2 separate regions of the Homo sapiens genome follow, and region 2 is linked to region 1. Evidence: fine-mapped expression QTL. A gene starts in region 1. The other region holds a variant in brackets. All regions are shown on one strand. Distances are from middle to middle.

The links.
Region 2: its variant is fine-mapped to the expression of GNB3 in nucleus accumbens (GTEx, PIP 0.96).

Annotation. Positions count from the first base shown.
Region 1 is chr12:6,833,904-6,845,860 of GRCh38, forward strand. It overlaps GNB3 (G protein subunit beta 3), which reads left to right and starts at 7,022. Exons shown (of 10, transcript NM_002075.4): 1 at 7,022-7,130; 2 at 7,355-7,441; 3 at 7,683-7,721; 4 at 9,067-9,173; 5 at 9,271-9,334; 6 at 9,460-9,622; 7 at 9,729-9,795; 8 at 9,874-10,075; 9 at 11,683-11,899. The coding sequence starts at 7,385. It overlaps P3H3 (prolyl 3-hydroxylase 3), which reads left to right. Exons shown (of 15, transcript NM_014262.5): 9 at 22-146; 10 at 3,082-3,183; 11 at 3,520-3,670; 12 at 3,829-3,946; 13 at 4,055-4,130; 14 at 5,097-5,237; 15 at 5,394-5,944. The coding sequence ends at 5,558. It also overlaps a transcript of CDCA3 not described here.
Region 2 is chr12:6,185,308-6,200,637 of GRCh38, forward strand. CD9 (CD9 molecule) reads left to right here and starts at 15,093. Exons shown (of 8, transcript NM_001769.4): 1 at 15,093-15,258. The coding sequence starts at 15,193. RefSeq lists enhancers at 5,090-5,775, 5,776-6,461, 13,965-14,577, 14,578-15,189 and a silencer at 8,789-8,838. The variant T/C (reference allele first, on the strand shown) is at 8,684.

The DNA.
Region 1 (11,957 bases):
GCTCTGTCTTTTCCCTGGCAGATGTCCTTCTCCTGGAGGGTGTGACCTTGACCCAGGATTCCAGGCAGCTGAATGGGTCGGAGCGGGCGGTGTTGGATGGGCTGCTCACCCCAGCCGAGTGTGGGGTGCTGCTGCAGCTGGCTAAGGTAGGAAGACCTGCAAGCTCATCAGCTCGTTCAAGACTCTTGGATACAATCACCTGTTCCCTTGCTCTTGGCCTGCCCCCTTCATTCTGCCTGTCCTGATTATCCAACCGGGACTGTGCTTACCACTGCCTCTCAGCTGTGGATAAGTTCCGTCTCGTCTTAATTTAGCTGACATAGGTGGATGTTCTTTACAAATGAATTTTGCTAGAAATTGATAGGAAGAACAAAACAAAAAACATGAAGGCATAAAAATGGATGAGTGTGCAGGTAAGGATTGCTTGGTTAGCCAAGAGTTTAGTTACTGGCTTGGCTGATGGCTCAGCAGACACGCAGGCCTTTCTTTCCCTCCTAGTTTAGGTTGAATGACTCATACTCACCAGGTTGAGGCTACCATTTTATGAAGCTTCAACCCTTATCTTAGGTTAGTGCTCATTCAGTAATATACTCACTGAGTAGCTGCTATACACTAGAAACTGCTAGGTTCTAGGGAGAGGAAGATGATTATAGACTCTGCCCTTTGGGAGCTCAAGTGTAGAGGTGGAAACAGACAAGGAAATACATAATATAAGCAGGTGGTAAGTTTGGTAAAAGAAGTATGTTTTTGGGCTGGGTATGGTGGCTCATGCCTGTAATCCCAGCAATTTGGGAGGCCGAGGTGGGTGGATCACCTGAGGCTGGGAGTTCGAGACCAGCCTGACCAACATGGAGAAACCCTGTCTCTAATAAAAATACAAAAAAGTTAGCCAGGCGTGGTGGCACATGCCTGTAATCCCAGGTACTCGGGAGGCTGAGGCAGGAGAAGCGCCTGAACCCGGGAGGCGGAGGTTGTGGTGAGCTGATCTCGTGCCATTGCACTCCAGCGTGGGCAACAAGAGCGAAACTCCATCTCAAAAAAAAAAAAAAAAAGTATGTCAAATAGAAGCACTGAAATGCAGTTATAGAAGGCTTGCTGGAGAGGTGGTATTTGAGCTCAGTCTTAAGGATGAGTTAGTCAGGCGATTGGGGGTGGAATCAGTCTAAGAGGGAGAAGAGCATGGTGCATTCTGGGAACTGCAGTCAAGCACAGGGGTGAGAGCAGGGCCAGCTCCATAGTCATTACCTGTGTGATCTTGGGCAATTTATTTTAACATCTCTGAGCCTAATTTGCTCATCTATAAAATGAGGATAATAATAGTGTTTTTGTCATAGTGTCGTTGTGAGGATTAAATGAGTTAGCACATGATAAAGCTCTTAGAACACAGAATCATCACTGGCTGGGTGTGGTGGCTCATGCCTGTAATCCCAGCACTTTAGGAGGTCAAGGCAGGTGGATCACTTGAGGTCAGGAGTTCAAGACCAGCCTGGCCAACATGGTGAAACCCGGTCTTTACTAAAAATACAAAAAAATTAGTGGGCATTGTGGCAGGTGCCAGTAATCCCAACTACTGGGGAGGCTGAGGCAGGAGAATCGCTTGGACCCAGGAGGCGGAGGTCGCAGTGAGCCGAGATCGCACCATTGCAGTCCAGCCTGGGCAACAAGATCAAAACTCCGCCTCGAAAAATAAATTTTTTTAAATAATTAATTAATTAATTAATTAATTAAAAAAGAACATAGAATCATCAGGGTGTATGTTACCAAGAGACAGTATAGGGAAAGAGGGAGAGAGCCCACACATGAAGGCCGAGGGACAGTGAGTGTCTTCTGTGGCCTCCCAAGGAGTTTGGGCTTTATCTGTGTATGGTAGACAGCTGTTGCAGGATTTTAGGACGGTTGACTTTTGCATTCCTGTAGTACCTGGAATCAGGTGCAGGGTCTGGAGTCACCTGTAGGAGTGGTAGAGCCCTCTAGTGGCAGTCTGTAGAATGCAGTGGGAGAAAGACCCGGAAAAGGGGAGTAATTGACGAATGCCACCGTTGGCTGGCGAGGTGGCTCACACCTGTAATCCCAGCACTTTGGGAGGCTGAGGCAGGCGAATGGCTTGAGCCCAGGAGTTCCAGGCCAGCCTGAGCAACGTGGTAAAACCCCGTCTCTACAAAAATACAAAAAATTAGCTGGGCCTATGCGCCTATATGTTCCCACCTACTTGGGAGGCTGAGGTGGGAGGACCTCTGGAGCCTGGGAGGTGGAGATTGCAGTGAGCTATGATGGCGCCACTGCACTCCAGCCTGGGCGATAGAGCAAGACCCCGTCTCAAAAACAAAAAATGAAAAAAAAAAAAAACCCCAGGTTAGACGGCTTGGGTGACTAGGTGTCTCTCAGAAGTGAGATTTGTATGCAGGCGTAACTAGATAGTGGTGCTTAAACAAATTCAAAAAGTAGACAAAAAACGGGTGTCAGAAAAGCGAATAATTCCAGTGTAGACATCCAGATATTAGGAGACCCCCAGGTAGTGAGAGTGGTCGCGGAGGTGGCTGGGTAGTTGTGACTCAGTATCAAGGAGTGGGGGAGCCACGGAGTCCACAGTTTCTCCGAGAGCATGTCAGGTGGGAAGAGGTCAGAGAGGGATAGCCCGCTGATGCTGTCTCCCTACCGCCAGTCTGGCCTAACTGTGGAACTTCCTCTTAGGGTCCTGTTTCCAGAGGGACTCCTCTATTCTTGGCTCATCGGGGATTAATGATCAAGCCCTTCCTGCCTAGTTCCCAGCTCTGCCCCACTTTTCCAGCTGTCCCTACCCTCTCAGAGGCCCCCTTACTGCTGTAGGAAGCTCTCCCGAGTTCTCTCCACAGTCCCCTTAGTAAGCGGGATTCCAGCCCGTACCAGAGAGGGACAATCGGACAGCCGTGGCGGTGGGCACTCTCTGGGAAAGAGCAGCAGCTCAGGAAGACGAGCCACAACAGAACTGTGGGAGCATCTAGCTTCTTCTGGAGAGCGGGAGGGCCGGAGGGAGGGTCTTGCAGCCCTGCAGACAGTGAGGGGCTGGGGGAGTGACTCCACGGTAAACTCCTTCCTATTTAGGATGCAGCTGGGGCTGGAGCCAGGTCTGGCTATCGTGGTCGCCGCTCCCCTCACACCCCCCATGAACGCTTCGAGGGGCTCACGGTGCTTAAGGCTGCGCAGGTGAGCACAGGAGGCACCCGGGCCCGTCTGATGCCCAGACCTGGAGGAGAGGCTGTGCAGGAAGCCGGGCCCCAGGGCCTGGGCTTTTGTGAAGGAGCTTTCTTGGGACCGAGACTACCTGATAGGACCCAGCGTGGAGAAAAGGGATGTTCTGAGAGCTGGGGCCGGGGTTGTTGTCATGGAGAGAGAAGGAGCAGTTTGGGCTGATGGACAGAGCTGGATGCTGACAGACTCCAAACCCATGGGTGGAGAGCGGCAGAGTTGGGCAGGGGCTAGGGCCGAGACCACCCTCCCCTTGCCTTCCTCCTTTTCTGCCCTGCCTTTCACTGCCTGCAGCTGGCCCGGGCTGGGACAGTGGGCAGTCAGGGTGCTAAGCTGCTTCTGGAGGTGAGCGAGCGGGTGCGGACCTTGACCCAGGCCTACTTCTCCCCGGAACGGCCCCTGCATCTGTCCTTCACCCACCTGGTGTGCCGCAGCGCCATAGAAGGTACGACAGGGACCCCCCACTGCTCTTCTCCAACCTCAGGCCCTGCCCCCAGGACACTGCCCCCAAGAGCCCCGGGGTGGACGTGCACGGCCTGAGCCCACAGGGTGGCAGATGGGCACAGGGGCACAGAGGTACCCCCAGACCCCTTTGTGTCCTAGGAGAGCAAGAGCAGCGCATGGACCTGAGTCACCCAGTGCACGCAGACAACTGCGTCCTGGACCCTGACACGGGAGAGTGCTGGCGGGAGCCCCCAGCCTACACCTATCGGGACTACAGGTGGGCAGCCCCTCTAGTGGTCAGGCAGGTGGGCAGACAAAGGTCATCCCACTGCCGGCCTGGGCCTGGGTTGGGGTCTCACTGCCTCTTGCTTTTTTCCCTCCCCAGCGGACTCCTCTACCTCAACGATGACTTCCAGGGTGGGGACCTGTTCTTCACGGAGCCCAACGCCCTCACTGTCACGGTGCGTGGAGTGGGGGGTGTGACGGTGTGACAAAGGGCCCAGCTGTGGGGTCAGGATTCAAAACAGAAGGCTCCAGAGGCAAATGCAGGGAAATGGCCAGGGCTTTTAACCCTTTCACTTCCCCGCCTCCGCAGCCCTCCCGCTGCTTCCTCCGTAGCAAGGTCTCTAAGTGGCCGAATCAACCCTACCATCAGTATTTGTCTCGCCTCCTAAAGAAGGGTGAATGAAGCACAGCTTGCAGGTGCCTCCAGGACTCCATGGCCCTATTCTAGGGATTTGGGGAACTTGAAATAGTCCTTCCTCTTTGCAGCGAGGTGAGCACAGTGGCTGGCGCACAGATACCAGGGCCGCCTTGACTGGGGCTCGGATTCTGAACCTTTCTGAGGTTTAGTTTCCTAGACTGGGGTGATAATAATAGTACGTATTTTAAAGGGTCATTGTAGGAAGTAATTTAGGTAATGTACCTAAAAGAATGAGGCAGCGCCTGGTAATGATAAGCAATTAATGAATGTTAGGTGGGAAATTTCCGGACACCAGGGGCTAGGATTGGGTAGGAGGAGAGGGGCAGTGATTGTTCATCTGGGTGTGGGGTGTGAAAATGGTTCCAATATCTGTATCCCCTTCTGCATAGAGTCTGGTACTGCATGCACAGCCCCAGATTGCTTCAAGCCCTGGATTCAAAGGGCTGAGTGGGAAAAATCAGGGTACCAGGGGTCAGGAACCAACAGGAGACCATCCGTGGAGACCCCTTTTTCCTTTGGTTCCCAACTCCTCTTGCATTTTTGCTCTGCAAGTTGAAGCTGATTTCTCATTTGCCCCAAGCTAGTCCCTGAATTAAGGAGTAGGAAGTGGTAGCGAGAGAGCTGATCCTCTCTGTGCCCCTGTCCCCATCCTGCTCTAGGGAGTGAGGGCCAAGTTCTCTGAGAGAGCCAATCCCTGGAGCTGAACCTGCCCTCATCCCTCCAGGCTCGGGTGCGTCCTCGCTGTGGGCGCCTTGTGGCCTTCAGCTCCGGTGTCGAGAATCCCCATGGGGTGTGGGCCGTGACTCGGGGACGGCGCTGTGCCCTGGCACTGTGGCACACGTGGGCACCTGAGCACAGGGAGCAGGTAAGGAGCGGGGTAGGAAGGGATGTGGTTCTCCTGGTGCGTGAAGGGTGGGCAAGGAGCCCCCGAGAAGGCTCACAGTCGGTGAGGGTCAGGGGCTGAGCTGACCCAGGGAAGGTGGGTGCAGGGAATGGGCCACACTCTCCTCCCCAACCCCAGGAGTGGATAGAAGCCAAAGAACTGCTGCAGGAGTCACAGGAGGAGGAGGAAGAGGAAGAGGAAGAAATGCCCAGCAAAGACCCTTCCCCAGAGCCCCCTAGCCGCAGGCACCAGAGGGTCCAAGACAAGACTGGAAGGGCACCTCGGGTTCGGGAGGAGCTGTGAGTGGCTGAGCCAGCTCCTTGAGGATGTGGCCACTTGACTTGTGGAAGGCCATCTTGATGCCAGGACACACAGGAAGCCCCTGTGTGACATCAGGAGCAGAACAGCAAGCTCTCTGTCCCTGCACCCCCACCATCTTGGGGACCTACAAGGGCCTGGACTCAGAGGACAGTGCACAGGCTAGCCTGGAGCTCACCAGGCCTGGGGAGCTGGGACGGGGCCCCGCTGCCGGACCTGCAGCCCTGGACAGATGGGGAACACTGTGCCTCCCTGAACAGAAATGGCAGGGGAGGAGGCTGATGCTTTAAATGAAGAGGATGGTGGGGTTGGGAGGTATAACCCTGCTCCTCTCTCCCAGTCTGTGCAATAAAGGTCGTGAAGATCTCTCAGCCAGGGGCCAGTCAAGTGTATCACAGATTCTGTGATGGCTGGAGGTGGGGGTGGCTCTGGCTGGCCTGGGAGGAGACAGGTGTCTTTGGGCCTCCCAGAGGCGGGGCGCCTGGAGCCTGTGATTTGTCAGGGAAATCTCAGCCACCTGCTCCCCTCATGCAAATGACCCAAGCCCCTGGCAGCTGCTCCTTAGGCCTCCAAGTGTAAGCCCTGTCTTCCCTCTCTGAGCTTTGCTGAGACTTAGGGCCGCCTGCTTTCTCTCTGACCCCTGCTTTCACAGCCTCGAGAGGGCAAGGAGGGGGCCAGACCCCAGCCTGGGAGCAGCGTGCGGGCCTTCCCTCCACTTGAAATCCGTTGCCCGCCCACAATAGGGGCAGACCTGTCCATCCTTCTCTGTGGGTCCCCTGTACCTTTCTCCCCCAACAGGATCAGACCCAGAGGCAGCTGGTTGGGGTTTGTCGAGAAGAAGGATTATCCAGATCAGTCCTTTCTAATCTCAGCTCCTGCCTGTACCCTCCCATACTCACCAAACCCTCTTCCCCACCACCCTGAGCTGAGGAGCACAGTTTGAGGTACTGACAATGGGGCCATCTATCACCCTTATATCCCACCTCCTGGCCTGGTTGCTAAGTGGCCCTGACTGCCAAGATCATCACCATGGATGGGGGCCGGGACCAGGGGGGCCACTGGAGCTGTAGTTGTCTGCTCCTTTGCACCCCTCCCAAACCCCAACCCTTAATCCTCACAGCTTTGCTCTAATCCTGTGGGGCCTGATGCTCTTATCTCTGCCTGCAGAGACTGACCAGGGAAGCACCCCTTCACCCCCTCCTCTCTCAGGGCTTGTGGTGGGGGCTGCCCCTCTCTATGGCCCCACACTCCTGCCCCCAACCCTCCTCCCGGCTGGGCCCAAGTCTCTCTGGAATCCGTACACCTCCCTCCCTCCCCCCACCCCTTCCCCCCACCCCTGCCAGCTGATTTCATTTGCCTGACGTTGTGGTTGGCTCTACCCTTCCCTGTCAGGCCCCCCCAACCCCCCGCCGGTCGGGGCCAGGCCAGGCCAGGCCAGCTCCTCTGGCAGCAGAGCCTGGGCAGGTGACGGGCGGGCGCGGGCGTCGCAGCTGAGGGAGTAAGGAGGCTCCCAGGAACCGGAGCTGGAAACCCGGCCGAGGTCCAGCCAGAGCCCAAGTAAGAGGGAGCTGGCCTGGGCTCTGCTCTCCTGGGCTGGGGCGCAGGCAGGGCTCAGGCAGGCTGGGGCTGGACGCAAAGGACCTCAAACTTGGAGGGCCTAGCTGGGGAGAGGGTGCAGCCACCCAGTCGTTTCCCTGTGTCTTGGAGTCTGGTGTGGGCACGAAGGGCAGAAGCACAGCCTGGTGGGGGGTTCCTCAACACCGACCCCATGTTCCTGGCAGGAGCCAGAGTGACCCCTCGACCTGTCAGCCATGGGGGAGATGGAGCAACTGCGTCAGGAAGCGGAGCAGCTCAAGAAGCAGATTGCAGTAACTCCAGAGCCCTACCCCTGGGGCCCCAGAAAACAGCTGGGGACATGAGGAGCGTGGCCCAGGGGGAGGGGGCTGGGTTTGCTCTTGAGTGACTAGAAGTGACCAGGGACTTTCTAAACTTGGTTCGCATATTTGAGACCCCCAAGCCCCAGAGCCCCAAGACCAACCTGCCCTGAAGGCCCATGCACCTGCCACCCCCACCTCGCCCTTGCTCCCCTGATGTCTGCTTTCCCTGCAGGATGCCAGGAAAGCCTGTGCTGACGTTACTCTGGCAGAGGTAAGACCCCCTGTCCCCCGGAAGGCAGGGCATGGGGGGAGGGGAAGGGAGCTCCCCGACCCGCAATAGCGCGTTGCTCCGAGCATTAGTACAGCACGTCCTTGGAGTGAGGAAACCCATTAATTAATTCATTCGACCAACATTTTAGCGGGACCTGCTCTGAGCCAGGCACCATATTGGATGCGAAAGATGCGGACACGGTTCCTATTCTCATCCGTAGAACAAGAGTGACCACAGCCCCCTCCCAGGGCCTTGAAGATGAAGAAGCGATAGTACTTTGTAAATTATAAAGCCCTTGTAGACTCTAGCTGCTAGTTTTCTATGCTGTATTTTGTCAATTCTAAGATGCACATTTCTTCACATTTTGACATCTCTGAAATCAAGGTGCATTCAGCAATGGATCATTGTTTCAATTAGAATTGACAGCATCTTTTCTTTCTTAGTGATGCATCTTAGATTGGATTAAATATGTTAATAGTGAACACTTTTTATGAGCCAGATACTGGGCTAAGCTGCATAAATACCTGATTTCATTGAATTTTCATGATATCTCTGTAAGGTAGGTGCTATGATAAGCCTCATTTTACACCTTGAGTAAACAGACTCAGGGAGGTGAAGCAACTTGCCCAAGATAACAAAGCAGGCCGGGCGCAGTGGTTCACGCCTGTAATCCCAGCCCTTTGGGAGACTGACGTGAAAGGATCACTTGAGCTCAGGAGTTTGAGACCAGCCTGGGCAACATAGTGAGATCTCTTCTTAATATAAAAAAAATTGCTTTTAACTTTTTAAAAAAAGATAGCAATGCAAGTGATGGCAAATCAAGTCTGTTCACTCTGGACCCCCAGCCTAAGTCTAAAATGTGGTTAGAGCTCAAGGGGCATAGTACCACAGATTTCAGGAGGTACAGTTCAGGGTCATGGTGATGCCCCAGGCACCCAGTTAAAAAGCTAGCCGTGCTGCAGCGGTGGGTGCAAGCAGGCTCCTCTCGGCTTGGGAGAGCCAGCTCTGTGCATCTCTTCCCAAATCTGTTTCCAATGACCTCACATTGGCAGCTGGAAACTGGTCAAAGTGCAAGTATTCGTATCGTGGAAATCACCTTCCCACCTTCCTCACCAACACTGGAGAGGTGCTTGTTAAACACTTACAAGCAACACACCTCTGGCCATGCATGCATCTCTTTCCCACATCAGTCTAAGACACTCCAGGGCAGAGACTTATTTCTCTAAGGCTGGGGGCCTGACCTAGAGCCTGGCACAGAGCGGGAACTTGTATAGATCAGTGGCAGTGACAGACATCTGGGCACGTAACCTGCTCACCCTGATATTCAGTGCCCCTCTCTCTGCAGCTGGTGTCTGGCCTAGAGGTGGTGGGACGAGTCCAGATGCGGACGCGGCGGACGTTAAGGGGACACCTGGCCAAGATTTACGCCATGCACTGGGCCACTGATTCTAAGTGAGGCTTGGGGGGGAACCGAGAATGGGAGGGTGAGAGCGGGAGTGAGGAAGGCGGGAAGGGGAGGCTTGCATGATATGGGATGCCCTCTCCCCAGGCTGCTGGTAAGTGCCTCGCAAGATGGGAAGCTGATCGTGTGGGACAGCTACACCACCAACAAGGTACCAGCCCTGCCTCCCTGAGCCTCCACCACTGCATCCTTCCTAAGGGCGCCATGCCTACCCTCCTGTGCCCAGCTGGGAGCTTGGCTCCGGTCCCATCTCTGCTCAAACCACCCTCCCTGCAGGTGCACGCCATCCCACTGCGCTCCTCCTGGGTCATGACCTGTGCCTATGCCCCATCAGGGAACTTTGTGGCATGTGGGGGGCTGGACAACATGTGTTCCATCTACAACCTCAAATCCCGTGAGGGCAATGTCAAGGTCAGCCGGGAGCTTTCTGCTCACACAGGTGAGGGAGAGACCCTCTCCTCCCCTCCTGAGGGGTTCAGGGAACCCTGGGCTTCCAGTGGGCTGTGGCTCTGCAGCCAGGGCACTGTCCTTCTAACCGCCTCCAGGTTATCTCTCCTGCTGCCGCTTCCTGGATGACAACAATATTGTGACCAGCTCGGGGGACACCACGTGGTGAGGCTGAACATTGCTGGTGCTGGGGCTTGGGAGTGGGCCCGGCCTTTCTCTAACAGTCTCCCTCCATTTTGGCAGTGCCTTGTGGGACATTGAGACTGGGCAGCAGAAGACTGTATTTGTGGGACACACGGGTGACTGCATGAGCCTGGCTGTGTCTCCTGACTTCAATCTCTTCATTTCGGGGGCCTGTGATGCCAGTGCCAAGCTCTGGGATGTGCGAGAGGGGACCTGCCGTCAGACTTTCACTGGCCACGAGTCGGACATCAACGCCATCTGTGTGAGTGCACCCCCCACCCCAGCTTCACTCCAACTCCTTCCCCGACACTCCCCACAACACATACAATACACATCCTCTGCCCCTCCCATAGCTTCCCTAGCCCTTTCTTACTGTATTTTTTTTTTTTTTTTTTTTTTTTTTGAGACAGAGTCTCACTTTGTCGCCCAGGCTGGAGTGCAGTGGTGCAATCTTGGCTCACTGCAACCTCTGCCTCCTGGGTTGGAGCAATTCTCCTGCTTCAGCCTCCTGAGTAGCTGGGATTACAGGTGTGCGCCACCATGCCCGGCTAATTTTTGTATTTTTAGTAGAGATGGGGTTTTGCCATGTTGGCCAGGCTGGTCTTGAACTCTTGACCTGAGGTGATCCTCCCACCTCAGCTTCCCAGAGTGCAGTGCTGGGATTACAGATGTGAGCCACTGTGCCCAGTCTTCCCTAGCCCTTTCTTTCTTTCCTTTTTTTGGAGACAGAGTCTCACACTGTTGCCCAGTCTGGATGCAGTGGTGCTATCATAGCTCACCGCAGTCTCAACCTCCAGGGTTCAACCAATCCTCCCACCACAGCCTCCTGAGTAGCTGGGACTACAGATGCGTGTGACCACGCTTGGCTAATGTTTTGATTTTTGTGTAGAGATGGGTTCCCACTATGTTGCCCAGGCTGAGCTGGAACTTCTGAGCTCAAGCGATCCTCCTGCCTCAGTCTCCCAAAATATTGGGATTACAGGCATGAGCCACCACGCCTAGCCCATTTTATCACGTTTGCTTTATCATTTTTTCTCTGTAGAGAAATAGCCATAGATACACACACACATACACACTTAGATGTAGATATACATTTTCTTTCTGTGTCTTTTGAAAGTAGGTTGCAGACATCATGTTTCTTTACCCCTTAAGTACTTCCCGAAACAAAGCCCTTCTGTAGCATAATCACTGTATGATTCTTAAGATCAGGAAACTCAACATTGACACAATACTACAGTCTACAGTCTATATTCAAATTTCACCAATAGCCTCAAAAATGTCCATAATAGCTCATGTTTTTTTCTGTCCAGGATCCAATCCAGAAACGTGCATTACCTTTCCTCGCCATATCTTTTTCGTCACCACCTTTAAACTGGAACTGTTTTCCCACCTTTGTCTTTTATGTCATTGACGTTTTTGAAGAGTACAAACCAGTTTTCTGTAGACTCTCCCTCCGTTTGAGCTTATCTGACATTTGCTCGCCGTGAGATCCAGGCCTTGCATTTGTACTGGACCCTGTTCTTACACACCCTGATCCAGCCCACTTGTGTAGTCTGGGAGTCTGGGACAACCTCCGTCCGCCCTTCTAGCCGGGTCACTGCAGGCAAGCCTTGGTGCTCTTGCCTGCGACGTGGAAATGATGCCTGCCTGCAGCGCTGTATAGTGCAGAGCGGGCGAGGGGCATAGGGAAGTCACTGGCACGTGGTATGTGTTGGCAGGGCTGCTTCTCACCCCAAACCAAGGGAGGGACAGGCAGGGAGGCTGAGAGCAGCGGCTTGCCCTGGAGCTGTCAGGTGGGAGGCAGAGGGCGGGAGAGGCTGTGGGCTGCCCAGGTCTGATCCCTGACCCACTTGCCACCCGTGCCCTCAGTTCTTCCCCAATGGAGAGGCCATCTGCACGGGCTCGGATGACGCTTCCTGCCGCTTGTTTGACCTGCGGGCAGACCAGGAGCTGATCTGCTTCTCCCACGAGAGCATCATCTGCGGCATCACGTCCGTGGCCTTCTCCCTCAGTGGCCGCCTACTATTCGCTGGCTACGACGACTTCAACTGCAATGTCTGGGACTCCATGAAGTCTGAGCGTGTGGGTAAGGGCCAGCCCTGGCTGCTGCTTCCTCAGCTGGAAGGACCCTCCCCAGCCCTCCC
Region 2 (15,330 bases), 650 kb before region 1:
CTCAGAAACATAACCATGGCCGGGCGCAGTGGCTCATGCCTGTAATCCCAGCACTTTGGGGGGCCGAGGCGGGCGGATCACGAGGTCAGGAGATCGAGACCATCCTGGCTAACACGGTGAAACCCTGTCTCTACTAAAAATACAAAAAAATTAGCTGGGCGTAGTGGCGGGCGCCTGTAGTCCCAGCTACTGGGGAGGCTGAGGCAGGAGAATGGCGTGAACCCGGGAGGCGGAGCTTGCAGTGTGCCGAGATCGCGCCACTGCACTCCAGCCTGGGCGACAGAGCGAGACTCCGTCTCAGAGAGAAAAAAAAACAAAAACAAAAAACACATAACCACAATGCCATCATCACACGTAAGAAAGTTAACAATATTTCCTTAACATCATCTAGTCCTTAGTCCATATTTAAATTTCCCTAACTGCCTACAAAACCTTTTTTTTAATAACTGGTCTGTCTGCATCAGGATTCAAGAATCAGGCCCACACGTTGCCCTTGGTGGACAGAACTCCTAAATCTCTGTTACAGATTAACAGTTTCCAGGAGAAACACGTTTCCCTCTCTTGTATCTTTATTTTTCAGTTATATAAACAAATGATCTATTTTTAAATGAAATTTAAAATAAAAATCTAATGCTTCATGGAGATAAGGCTCCCAAGGGGTCCCAAAAAGTGGTGGGTGAGGGGAAGCCTCAGTGGAGCTCTGGGCTGGAGCGGATGGGAGGCAGAAGGCCCCACCAAAGCTACACGTGGTGAACAGACTTGGGGAGTCTAGGCTCTGACATTCTGGCTTCCTGGCCTGCTTGGAGGTGGGTGGGGAAGTGGTGGGAATGCCAGCGATACAATTTAGCCCTGAGGAAAGTCCCCAAAGTCAAGAGTGCTGCAGTCACTCTATGTGGGTAGGGTGGGAGAGCCACAGGAAACCCACCATCCCTCCATCAGAGCCATATCACACTCCTAGACCCAGGTGTTAAACCAAAGCGTGCCCAGATTGGACAACCGGGAAAAATGGAGATGCGCAGAATGTGCAGGACGGGGGAGGGGTTGGCTAAACTGGAAGTCGGGAGGTCCAAGTCCTACTCTAGCTCTGCCACCAGCCACCTGCACAGTCCTGTGAGAGCCACCTCTAAACACATTCCCTCTAGTAACCACGGCTGGGAGAGGTGGAATGGCGAATAACATCTATTAGTGTTTGCTTGTATTTGCATAAAGAAGGGCACAATAAAAACCGAAGCAGCATCAAATGAGATCCTGGGTATGGAAAAGGGAGTGTCAATTAATATTGTTAACAGCCAGATCCCAAAACCCCAATCCTACCAAGTTCCCAACATTATCCCTAATTTAAGAGAGGAGTTCTGCAGGATGAATAGGAGTTTGCTGGAAACAAGAAAGTTATTGTAGAGAAAGAGAATGACAGGGTCAAAAACAGAGAAATAGGAAATGAGCCCAGTGAGTCCAGAGAATTTAAAAAAATGCAAAATACAGGGCGGGCGCATTGGCTCACACCTGTAATCCCAGCACTTTGGGAGGCTGAGGCGGGCAGATTGCCTGAGGTCAGGAGTTCGAGACCAACCTGACGAACATGGTGAAACCGGTCTCTACTAAAAATACAAAAACTAGCTAGGCCTGGTGGCAGGTGCCTGTAATCCCAGCTACTCAGGAGGCTGAGGCAGGACAATCACTTGAACCTGGGAGGCAGAGGTTGCAGTGAGCCAAGATCGTGTCACTGTGCACTCCAGCCTGGGCGACAGCGAGACTCTATGTCCAAAAAAAAAAAAAATGCAAAATACAAAATGCAATGTGGAAACTTGGATTGGATTCTGGAACAGAAAAAGGACATCAGTGGAAAAACTGATGAAATCTAAATAAAGTCTGCAGTCTAGTTAACAGTATTGTACCAATGTTGATTTCTCAGTTTTGACAAATATACCACGATTATATAAGACGTTAACATTAGAAGGAAGCTGCACTATCTTTGCAACTTTTTTTAAACTGAAATTATTCCAAAATTAAAAGTTTATTAAGAAAGAGGGTTGGCAAGAGGTGGAGATTGCAGTGAACTGAGATCATGCCACTGCACTCCAGCCTGGGTGACAGAGGGAGAGGAAAGAAAGGAAAGAAAGAGGAAAAGAGAAAGGAAGAAAGGAAGAAGAAGGAAGGAAGGAAGGAAAGGAGGGAGGGAGGGAAAGAAAGAGAGTTCGAGGTATTTAGGGAAGTAGAGCTGTTAAAAGCTAGAGCAGGCCAGGCATAGTGGCTCACACCTACAATCCCAACACTTCAGGAGGCCAAGGCGGACAGATCCCTTGAGTCCAGGAGTTGGAGACCAGCCTGGGCAACATGGTAAAACCCCATCTCTACAAAATATACAAAAATTGGCTGGGGGTGGTGGCGTGCACCTGTAGTCCCAGATACTTGGGAGGTTGAAATGGGAGTCTCGTTTGAGTCTGTGAGATCGAGGCTGCAGTGAGCCATGATCTCACCACTGCACTCCAGCCTAGGTGACACAGTGAGACCCTGTCTCAAAAATAAACAAATAAAACCAGCTAGAGCATATAAGGTGCCAGAGTGGGAAATCAGGTGCTGGACGTCAGCAGAGGCTGGTTTACAAAGGCCCGTGCCACACAATGAGGTTCAGACTTCCTTTGTCTTTAGGCAGTGACTCCATGGCCATATTCTCCCTCTCTCTAAACCCTTCCCACAGGCCACAGGTAGACATTAGTGACAGCTTCTTACCTTCACTGTATTTTACCTGCCCATATCTACCTGAACCTACAGACGAAAGTCCCATCTCTTATACACAGACACACATGCAGACACGTGTGCACACACACACTGGCCCTCTAGGGGGACCTTTGTCCAACCCACCCCAGATACAGCTGGGAGAGACAGCGACCCTGCCTCTGGGTGCTTATAGTTTCAGGAGCATCAGCCAAACATTATATGAGACACAAAGAAACTGTCAGCAAGATAGATTCAGCAACTTCGTTTGCCCTTTGATATGAATAAAACCTTCTCAGGACCAGCTTAGGCTAAGCTGTGTGGAAATGGGAAGCAGGCATAGAGCTGAGCCCAGTGGCCCCCAGCACTGCCCTGTCCCCACCTGTGTCTTGCTACGGCTGCCTGGTCAGTCCTGCTCTCAGATATCTGGACCCCTGCAACTCCTCACTTCCCTAACTCTTCCTCGCCTTGTTACCATCTAATGATTGGCGTCCACCACATCCTATATCACCAGTTAGGAGGTGAGTTTCTCATGAGCAAAACTAGGGCGTGGCTTATCCTGGGCACCTCCCACAGCCTAGCACTCAGGTGCTCAGTAAATGTGGGGTGAACAGGACCTAGCATGCTGGGCAAAGACACTCAGAAGACAGAGCTGAAAATGCTCATCTTGCCAACATTCTCCAAGACTCCAAGCCTTGGGGCTATTTAGCATTTTATAACAACCAAGTCCACTACTCCTGTACTGAGATTAAAATTGAAAATCAAGTTTATAAGCACCCTTATAGTTTACAAAGCACTTACACATCCAGGATTTCATCTGACTCTCTTACAACAGCAAAGTAGGAGTTTTTACTAAGCCCATTTTGTGGATAACGAAATGGAGTCTCAGAAAAGCAGAGACTTGCTCAGGTCATCTCTGCTCCCAGGTAAGTATGCAGTAGGGCTTGCACCTGTGACTTCTAATTTCAAGCCCCATGCTAATTGCCTACAGCTTCTCTACCCTCTTACGCAGGAAATACCACAAATACATAGCCCCCAGAGTCCCTGCTCCTCCACCTGAAGCCAGAACCACCAACCAGAACAGAAGCCAGCAGCCACAGAGTGAAGAGAAGCTGCAGCTGCTACCCATGGGCTGGCATTGCCTACCACTGAGCCAGGGGCAGGCTGCCTGGGCACATACCCGCCCATCCCCACCCCTCATGGTGGAGAAAGAGCAGTAATCATCCTCGCTCTGCAGCTGTGGAAAGCGAGCCTCAGAGGAACAGACAAGCACCAGCAAAGGCAGGACCCAATTGCAGGCTCACCACCTGTCAGCAGCCCTAAGACTCAGAGTCGCCTTGCAGGGAGGCACCTTCAAGATGGCACAACTGCTGAGGAGTCATCTGCAGCCCCTTCACCCACCTCTACAGTCAAAGGGCAAAAACGGCAGTGTAGTGCCAGTCCACATTTACCTACCACAGGAAGCAGCAGCTTAGCACCTGGGCTCTGGAACCAGGCCACCTGGGTTTACATCCCGGCTCTGCTGCTTCCTAACAAGAGCATGAACCGCCTGTGACTTGGCTTCCCCATTTGTAAAACTATCAACCTCAAAGGGTTGTTTGTGGATTGAGTTTATATACAGCAGTTAGAACAGCATTAGTTACATCTTATGTACCCATGCAAGTGTTAGTTCTTCAGACCTACTACATTAAGTGTCTGGAAGGTACCTACTGTGGGTACAACAGGAGCTGGTAATCTAGCTGGAGAGTATTTATTTATGGGGAAGGAGTCTTGCTGTGTCGCCCAGGCTGGAATGCAATAGCACCATCTCAGCTCACTGCAACCTCCGCTTCCTGGGTTTAGGCAATTCTCCTGCGTCAGCCTCCTGAGTAGCTGGGATTACAGGCACCTGCCTGAAGGGATGGGTTGCTCCTCCACACCTGTGGGCACTTCTCATTAGGTGGAACGAGACTTGGAAAAGAGACACAGAGACAAAGTGTAGAGAAAGAAAAAAAGGGGGCCCAGGGTGTGTCTGGAATTGGTAGGTCCTTGGTCTCACTGACTTCAAGAATGAAGCCACGGACCCTCGCGGTGAGGTGAGTGTTACAACTCTTAAGGTGGCGCGTCTGAAGTTTGTTTTTTCTGACGTTCAGATGTGTTTGGAGTTTCTTCCTTCTGGTGGGTTTGTGGTCTTGCTGGCTTAAGGAGTGAAACTGCAGACCTTCGCGTTGAGTGTTACAGCTCTTAAGGCAGCAAGTCTAGGAGTTATTCGTTTCTCCCAGTGGGCTCATAGTCTCACTGGCTTCAGGAGTGAAGCTGCAGACCTTCGTGGTGAGTGTTACTGCTCATAAAAGCAGTGCAGACCCAAAGCGTGAAAGAACAAAGCTTCCACCACGTGAAAGGAGACCCGAGCGGGTTGCTACTGCTGGCTCACGCAGCCTGCTTTTATTCTCTTATCTGGCCCCACCCACGTCCTGCTGATTGGTAGAGCCCAGTGGTCTGTTTTGACAGGGCGCTGATTGGTGCGTTTACAATCCCTGAGCTAGACACAAAGGTTCTCCTCCTCCCCACCAGATTAGTTAGATACAGAGTATCGACACAAAGGTTCTCCAAGGCCCCACCAGAGCAGCTAGATACAGAGTGTCAATTGGTGCATTCACAAATCCTGAGCTAGACACAGGGTGCTGATTGGTGTGTTTACAAACCTTGAGCCAGATACAGAGTACCGATTGGTGTATTTACAATCCCTGAGCTAGACATAAAGGTTCTCCACATCCCCACCAGACTCAGGACCCCAGCTGGCTTCACCCAGTGGATCCCGCACCAGCGCTGCAGGTGGAGCTACCTGCCAGTGCCGCGCCCTGCGCCCACACTCCTCAGCCCTTGGGTGGTTGATGGGACTTGGCACCGTGGAGCAGGGGGCGGCGCTCATCGGGGAGGCTCGGCCGCACAGGAGCCCACGGAGTGGGTGGGAGGCTCAGGCATGGTGGGCTGCAGGTCCCGAGCCCTGCGCCGCGAGAAGGCAGCTAAGGCCCAGTAAGAAATCGAGCGCAGCGCGGGTGGGCCAGCACTGCTGGGAGACCCAGTACACCCTCCGCAGCCGCCGGCCCGGGTGCTAAGCCCCTCATTGCCCGGGGCCCGCAGGGCGGGCCGGCTGCTCTGAGTGCGGGGCCCGCCAAGCCCACGCCCACCTGGAACTCCAGCTGGCCCGCAAGCGCCGCTCACAGCCCCGGTTCCCGCTCGCGCCTCTCCCTCCACACCTCCCTGCAAGCTGAAGGAGCCGGCTCCGGCCTTGGCCAGCCCAGAAAGGGGCTCCCATAGTGCAGCGGCGGGCTGAAGGGCTCCTCAAATGCCGCCAAAGTGGGAGCCCAGGCAGAGGAGGCCCCCAGAGTGAGCGAGGGCTGTGAGGACTGCCAGCACGCTGTCACCTCTCAAGGGGACCAGCGTTCAGCATACGGAGGATCCCGCCAGCCTCTGAGTTCCCTTAGTATTTATTGATCATTCTTGGGTGTTTCTCGGAGAGGGGGATGTGTCAGGGTCATAGGATAATAGTGGAGAGAAGGTCAGCAGATAAACACGTGAACAAAGGTCTCTGCATCATGAACAAGGTAAAGAATTAAGTGCTGTGCTTTAGATATGCATACACATAAACATCTCAATGCCTTACAGAGCAGTATTGCTGCCCGCATGTCCCACCTCCAGCCCTAAGGCGGTTTTCCCCTATCTCAGTAGATGGAATATACAATCGGGTTTTACACCGAGACATTCCATTGCCCACCTTCCTCTTGTCTCAACTGCAGAAAGGTGTTCCTTCCTCTTTTACTAATCCTCCTCAGCACAGACCCTTTACGGGTGTCGGGCTGGGGGACAGTCAGGTCTTTCCCTTCCCACGAGGCCATATTTCAGACTGTCACATGGGGAGAAACCTTGGACAACACCTGGCTTTCCTAGGCAGAGGTCCCTGTGGCCTTCCGCAGTGTTTGTGTCCCTGGGTACTTGAGATTAGGGAGTGGTGATGACTCTTAAGGAGCATGCTGCCTTCAAGCATCTGTTTAACAAAGCACATCTTGCACCGCCCTTAATCCATTTAACCCTGAGTTTGACATTGAGATTAACAGCATCTCAAGGCAGAAGAATTTTTCTTAGTACAGAACAAAATGGAGTCTCCTATGTCTACTTCTTTCTACATAGACACAGTAACAATCTGATCTCTCTTTTCCCCACACCCGCCATCATGCCCAGCTAATCTTTTTTTTTTTAGACGGAGTCTCACTCTCACCAGGCTGGAGTGCAGTGGCGCAGTCTCAGCTCACTGCAACCTCCGCTTCCTGGGTTCAGGCGATTCTCCTGCCTCAGCCTCCTGAGTAGCTGGGATTACAGGCACCTGCCACCACGCTCAGCTAATCTTTTTTTTTTTTTTTTTTCTGAGACGGAGTCTCGCTCTGTCGCCCAGGCTGGAGTGCAGCGGTGTGATCTCAGCTCACTGCAAGCTCTGCCTCCCGGGTTCACGCCATTCTCCTGCCTCAGCCTCCCTAGTAGCTGGGACTACAGGCGCCCGCCACCACGCCTGGCTAATTTTTTGTATTTTTAGTAGAGACAGGGTTTCACTGTGTTAGCCAGGATGATCTCGATCTCCTGACCTCGTGATCCGCCCGCCTCAGCCTCCCACAGTGCTGAGATGATAGGCGTGAGCCACCGCGCCCGGCCGCCCAGCCAACTCTTTTAAACAGATGCATGAAACCTGAAATTATCACCCAGGACAAATCTTGTAAGAGTCTAGTGGATGATTCAGAAAGAAGTTGCTACAGGAGTGTCCTGAGAAAGAGGATCAGAGCAGACTAAGATGACTGAGGGTGCTGGGGAAGGCAGGGGCTGGGCTGGCCTCAGAGATGGTGCAGGCTGCTTGAAGGGCAGAAAGGAGGAAGTGCCAAGAGCTTGGGCTTCGGAAAGAAGAGGTGGGGACCCAGGCATAGAGCTGGGGATGCATGTGGTATTCCAAAAGAGTGAACAGATTTGCAAACAGAGGTTAAGGCGAGAGAGCAGAGGGCCTGTATGATGATCTTACAATTGAGACATCGGCTTTCCATACATTCAATAAATATTGTGCACCTACTGTATGTCAGGCACTGTTCAAAGCCCTTGGGATACATAGAGAACAGAACAGCCATGCGGATTTTGCATTCTAGCTGGAGGAGACAGGTAAATAGCAATGCACATACCAAGGAAACATTCCACTCTGTGAGAAGGTAAATGCTATGGGAGCATTGTTTGGAAGTAGAACAGGGGTAAGGGGAGTTGGGAGATCTTTGAGCAGGAAAGAGTAAAGCTGAGCTTCAGGAGTCTGATGAAAGGATGATATTAAATATTGCTTGTTTAGAATTGCTCCCCGCCTGCCCCCAACCCCCATATACTAAGGAGGACAGACCCTGAGAGCCATGATTTGTTTTGCTGAGCAGGGTGAGGGGAGGTGGGGACACAAACGGAAAATGCCAAGTTTAGAGCTAAATTGCTCCACACAGACATATGCAGAGGACATCCACAGGGCAGGGGGCTGGCTGAGGCTGGGCTGGGGGGCAGATGATAGGGGTGGCTGCCACAGATTGGACGTTTGAGAAGAGCTATCCAGAGGGATTCTTAGAATGGTTCTCTCTGGCATATGAGAGGGAACCCCTCATCCACCTATCCGTGAAACCTTCATAAAATCCACACTGGACATAGGCAGTTTCCAGGTTGAGTGTGTGTGTGCTTAATGCAAGGAAAAGAAGTGATGGGTGAGAGGAGGGCAGCCCACCCCCAAGGACGCACGCAGCAAGACTCTCTGGGTCCAATGTTGTGTCCATCCTGGGCAGGTGAACAGCAGCGAGGCAGGGCAAGGGTAGAACAGCCGTTTGGGCTGCAGATGAGCTTCCAGGATGCAGCCCCCTTGCGGATGGCAGGGCATCAGGGGGAACAAAAGATCAGGATCCAACCCTGGACTGAAACCAGAAGC[T/C]CTGAGGTCTGATCTGTGCTCTGCCACTCAATCACTACAACCCGCCTTAGCCCTGGTGCCTCCCAGCAATGACGTAAGAACAGCTAAGAAACAGGAATCACATTCACTAAGCAGCTGTGAGGCTGGGGGAAGGAGGAGCCCCAGGTGATGGGAGGTGTTGGTGCTGACTGATTAGAGACAGGGAGGGCTGAGGAGAAAGTCAGCTGCGAGCCTAGAAAGCCCTTGGAGATTATGAATTCTGATCTTGATGTTTACATTGAGATTACTATATTTCCTATTGCTTCGGTAACAACCACAAATTTAGTGGCTTAAAGTAACACATATTTACTATTTCACAATTCTAGAGGTCTGAAATCTAAAATGGGTGGGCAGGGCTGTGTTGGATCCCTCTGGCAGCTGCAGGGGAGAATTCGTTTCTTCGCCTTCTCCAGCTTCTAGAGGCTGTCCTTGTTCCCCAACACACAGCTGTGCATCACTGCGACCTCTGCTTCTGTCGTCACATCTCCTTCCCTGGCTTTGACACTTCCACCTGTCTCTTATAAGAACCCTTTGGATTCCACTGGGCCCACTGGGATGGTCCAGGCTATGCCATGGAAAGTAACACATTCACAGTTTTGGGGATTGGAACGTGGGCCTATTTGGAGGGCCGTTAGAAGTGGAAACGGGCCAGGCACGGTGGCGCACGCCTGTAATCCCAGCACTTTGGGAGGCTGAGGTGGGCGGATCACCTGGGGCCAGGAGTTCAAGACCAGCCTGACCAACAGGAGGAAACCCCATCTCTACTAAAAATATAAAAAATATAAAAAATATAAAAAACACGGTGGCTTACGCCTGTAATCCCAGCACTTTGGGAGGCTGAGGTGGGTAGATAACGAATTCAGGAGTTCAAGACCAGCCTGGCCAATATGGTGAAACCCCGTCTCTACTAAAAATACAAAAATTAGCTGGGCATGGTGGTGTGCGCCTGTAGTCCCAGCTACTTGGGAGGCTGAGGCAGAAGAATCACTTGAACCCGGGAGGCAGAGGTTGCAGTGAGCCAAGATCGTGCCACTGCACTCCAGCCTGGGTGACAAAGCGAGACTCCGTCTAAAAAAAAAAAAATTATTAGCCGGGCATGGCAGCGCACACCTGTAATTCAATCTGCTTGGGAGGCTGAGGCAAGAGAGTCTCTTGAGCCCAGGGATGGAGGTTGTAGTGAGCCGAGATTGAGCCACTGCACTCCAGCCTGGGCAACAGAGCGAGACTTGGTCTCAAAAAAAAAAAATCTGCAGGCTCTTGGATATCAGGACTTGCATTTACAGAGAGATGAGTTAAACAGAGAAAATGGTGGAAGGCACAAAAGGGGATGAGTGCTCCAGGAGAGGTCTGAGAGAGAAGGGCAGGGGCCTGAGAAAGCCCCACGCCCAGCCGTCATTCTGCAGATGTTTGCAGAGGGCCTGCTCTGGGCCAGGAAGGGACCGGGAGCTAGGGAGAGCACAGAAATTAATCAAATGCAAGTGCACCCTCGAGGAGCTCACTACCAAGAAGTGGACACATAAAGGAAGATGATGATGACCAGAGAATCACACATGCGAGACTCAAGGTAATCCACGGAGAAAAAGACTGGAGTGCTCCAGGAAGGCTTCATAAGGTGGTGTATTTGAGCTTAGAAAGAGGAACAGGAGAGAAGCTTCTAGAAGTGAAGGAGGTGAATCAAGATGGCCACTGGTGTGGTGGCTGGAAGGGCCTTGGTGGCCTGTGAGAGCGAGGGTCCTACCTGTTGCCTTACAAAGCCATTGCCCACAGCTGGAGGGACCTGGGGCATGGGTGTGACGGCTCATTAGGTCACCTGGCCTCTGCGTGTTCAAATCTTACCACCAGGGGGGGCACAAGAGCCAAAGTGGACCCTGAGCCTGAGCTGGGGTTTCTTTCCCAGAGACAGGACGCCTTGAGGGAAGGGAGGAAAAGCTTTCCCACTCCAGCACCACAAAGCCTGGAAGGCCTGGCTGCTTCCATGTGATTTCTGACTCAGGGGCTTACCCATATTTTCCTCTTCCGGTTAAGGCAAAACATAATTTTTCCATCGCTCACCTTCCTGGTTGCCTGTAGCACTAACTGTCTGTAACAAATGCACTTTGGCCCAGGGGTTTATTGTGACACAGAATGTCAGGAGGAATGAAAGACACCTCCTGATCCAAAATGCTGTGAACCAAAAAGTATCTGAGACAGGTCTCAATCAATTTAGAAAGTTTATTTTGCCAAGGTTACAGATGGGCGCCCAGGAGGCAGATCTGTGCCTTCTGCAAAGATGATTTTGAGGGCTTCAATATTTAAAAGGCGGCTGGTGGGGAAAGAGGAAGAAAGTTTTTTTAAGGTGTGGGTAGGTAAGAAACAAACGGTTGCATTCTTTTGAGTCACTGATCATCCTCTCACTGAATGCACAATTTACATGGCAGAGGAGGGTAGAGAAATAAGTCACTTATGCCTTGTCTAGCACAGCGAATCTTCATTTTTACATTGGAGGAAGCAATCAGATATGCATTTGTCTCAGGTGAGCAGAGGGATGACTTTGAGTTCTGTCCTTTTTTCTGTACCTGTGAAGATATGCTATCAATTTACATTGTCATGGTGAAATTCAACAGAACTGTTTTAGGGCAAATATCATAGGGTCCACCAGAAATTTCCTCATGGGCAAATTGTGAAAGAAGTGCATAGCTGCTTTTTTTTTTTTTTTTTTTTTTGAGACGGAGTCTGGCTGTGTCCCCCAGGCTGGAGGGCAGTGGCGCGATCTCGGCTCACTGCAAGCTCTGCCTCCCGGGTTCACGCCATTCTCCTGCCTCAGCCTCCTGAGTAGCTGGGACTACAGGCGCCCGCCGCCACGCCCGGCTAATTTTTTTGTATTTTTAGTAGAGACGAGGTTTCACCGTGTTAGCCAGGATGGTCTTGATCTCCTGACCTCATGATCCTCCCGCGTCGGCCTCCTAAAGTGCTTGGATCACAGGTGTGAGTCACAGCGCCCAACAAGAAGTGCATAGCTTTTTTTGTTTTTTCTTTTTGAGACGGAGTCTCACTCTGTCGCCAGGCTAGAGTGCTGTGGCGCGATCTCGGCTCACTGCAACCTCCAACTCCCTGGTTCAAGGGATTCTCCTGCCTCTGCCTCCCGAGTAGCTGGGATTATAGGTATGCGCCACCATGCCTGGCTAATTTTTGTATTTTTAGTAGAGATGCGGTTTCACTATGTTGGCCAGGATGGTCTCGATCTCCTCACCTCGTGATCCGCCCACCTTGGCCTCCCAAAGTGCTGGGATTACAGGCGTGAGCCACTGCGCCCGGCCGAGAAGTGCATAGCTTTTTAAAAAATCTTTGTAGCTATCTTATTTAGGAATGGGAGGCAGGTTTGCCTGTGGCAGTTCCCAGCTTGATTTTTTCCTTTGGCTTATTGATTTTGGGGTCCTAAGATTTATTTTCCTTTCACAATACTCTTGTACAGGTGAGGAGACTGAGGCCCAGAGAGGAGGCTGCCTGCCTAACATAGACCAAAGGGTCAGAACCAAGAGTAGAACTCAGACCCCCTCACTTCAGGCCCAATGCTCTCATCACATAAAAAGGATGCCTTGATTATACGAATGTGGCACTGAACTATATAGGCTGACCCCAATTCTTTCTTCAGTGTAAACAATAATAGGAATAGGAGCAACAGGCAGCGTTTCTGCAGCGCTTCTGTGGCAGGCAGGTTCTAAGGCCTCCCTGTGGATTTCCTCTGTCAACACTCACGTTTACCCTAATAAGTAATTTCTATTATAAACTTAAATATTTACTGAACTCCTCCCACCAGTACTTGTTAACTTGGGAGAAGGGGGAGATGCAATAAAATCTTTCTTTTCCTAAGACCTGTCTCCCAAGATAGATGGACGCAGGCCCAAAAGGGCACAATGGAACACTGACTGTTTTCCGGCCTCCTTCCCACCCTCCAGGGTGCTTCACACTCCTCCCCTGTGCTGGAATCATCCTGGACACTGGTTAGGATGTGTAAAGTCAAGCATCACCAAAATTCCTCTGCTTGTCCTCTTGGCATTAGGCTCAGTTTAGGCCCTGCCTCTCCTTCCTTGTCCTCCTTCCTCCCCATGTACCACTATCGGTTGTTTCCCCAGTGCAGCCAGCTGCCCGCTTCTGTGTCTTTGCATATCCAGTTCCCTCTTGGAATTCCCTCCTCCGCATTGACTACTGACTCCACCTTCCCAAGTCAAGTCAGCTGCTGCAATGTCCCCTGCTCTGGGGAGCCTCTCGGACTCAGATTGACGTGGGGATGTGCCCTGTGCCCCTACTTGTTACTAGCTTCTGCTGCTCTGCCTCTGATCTCTCCCTCCCCTTCCCGGCCTGACACCTCATGGGGTTTTGCCCTGCCTTCTCTAGGCTTTATCCCATTGCCCCGCCTTCATTCATTCTTCTCTCACCTGAACTACTCCACAGCCTCCTAGCAGATTTGCACCTGGTCCTCAGCTCAACTTTCATCTACCACTGCTCCCCTCATATTACCTGATTGCGTCTCCCCAAATACAACATCTCCATGTTCCATGCAATCCCGTAAAGCACTGAGCCAAGGACTGGAGATGCCAACAATGGTCCTGGTCCTCAAGGGGCTTCCTACCTGCCCCTCCGGCCTTCCCCCACCCAACTACCTAAAACACAGGCAGAGAACCTCTGAAAACACAGCAGATCCAACCATTCCCCTGCTTGAACCTTTCGGTGGCCCCTAATGCTCAGAGTGCAAAGTCCAGGAGCACAAGGCTCTTTCTCACCTTCCCACAAACTACCCCGTGACTCCAGGCTCCAGCCCAGAGCCCGGACAGCCCCTGCCCCAGCCTTTGCCCAGGATTCTCCCTTGGCGGCAACTTTCCCTGTGGTTCTGCAGCATCATCTCCCAGTCTGGGTCAGAGGCCTCTCCTTAGCCTCTTAGCCCCCAAGCCTCTCCCCGTAACTGCACCTATCACCCTCAAACCATTGTCTGGCTGCCTGTCTCCTCCCACACTGGTCCCTGAGCAGAAACAAGGACTAATCCATGTTTTTCAGCTCCTACCCCTAATGAAATACCCTAATAGATACTGAAAAATGTTTTTGAACCAATGAGACAAGTCTACTGATAATAAACAGGCAAATAACAGCAATGTGCTAACAGTGGCTGTTTCTGGTGAGCAGAATTTTGAGGTCTGTTCCTTTCACTTCTTGGTATTTCGGTTGTTTCTGTAATGACTGTATCTTGCTTTTGTAATCATAAAGGACAGTAAAGGAAACTTCATTTTGAAAATAATACAAAGGGATTCGGGGACTTCAAAAGAAGGTGACTCTCCTCGTCCACTCCAGAGAATCAGGAAAGGAGTGTTTAAAGACCCACAGAATTCCTACAAGTGACGTTGGGGGGGGGCCAGCCAGCCAGGGCGCATGCCGGCCAGCGAGTGGGGTGGGCTCTGGGTCCGGGAGAAGTCAGATCAGTGCTCTGTACAGGGCCTTGAGGGCAAGACGAGGAATTTCGACTTAGGTCCTTGAATCTGGAGAGCTACAGAAAGTTTGTGAGCTCAGGAGAAGCGCTCCGAGCTCGGCATCTGGAGCAGTTCAAGGCAGCAGCGAGCAAGTCCAAAGACGCAGGAGGGAGGGTGGGGTGGAGGAGTAGAGAGAAAACAGAAGCCGTCTACAGACCCTTTTTCCCTCTGGGGCAACTAAACCTCAAGTGCAGGAAGCGCTTGGGGACTGCCCAGCCCTCAGCTGTGTTATTATTCGGTGATAGGTATTTGCTAATTACTTCCAAAAGCCTCCCATCTGTCATCCCACCCAGACTGCGCGCTTCTAATTCCTCCTACCCCACATGCTGTGCCCAATGAAAAGTATGGTCAGCGAGCGAAGGTTTGCAAGGAGACAGACGAGGGCGAAATTAAGCCAGGCGGCTTCCCTTTAAATCCTCGCAAAGCAGAAGGGCCCCTCACTCTGGCAGCAGGCCTTGGCCAAGGGGCCTTTAGCCCTGACGACCCGGGGAAGAGTCTCCCAAAGCAGAACGCCCGGTCCGGCGCCCAGACCAAACGCGGGGGAACCGGAAGGGCGAGGCCTCCACGTAAGTCCGCGGTAAAAGTGGCAGGGAGTGGCTGCCTGCAAAGACCCCAAGACGGCTTGAAGAAGGAGTGGGTGGCGGGTGGGGGTTAGGGCGACTAGGCGGGGAAACAGGGAGAGGGTCGGGCTCCGCGGGGCAGCTGGGGCCGGGGCTCGCCGACCTGGGCGGGGGCGGGGGGCGGGGGGGGTGCGGCCCGGGCGGGGCCGGTGGGGCGGGAGGCGTGGCCGGCGGGGGGAGTGGGGGCGGCTTTTCCCGGCACATGCGCACCGCAGCGGGTCGCGCGCCCTAAGGAGTGGCACTTTTTAAAAGTGCAGCCGGAGACCAGCCTACAGCCGCCTGCATCTGTATCCAGCGCCAGGTCCCGCCAGTCCCAGCTGCGCGCGCCCCCCAGTCCCGCACCCGTTCGGCCCAGGCTAAGTTAGCCCTCACCATGCCGGTCAAAGGAGGCACCAAGTGCATCAAATACCTGCTGTTCGGATTTAACTTCATCTTCTGGGTGAGTGAGCGCGACTGCCGCGCGCTCCTCTCAGGGCCCACCTGTTCGCGGGCCCCGGACACTGGCCGCGGC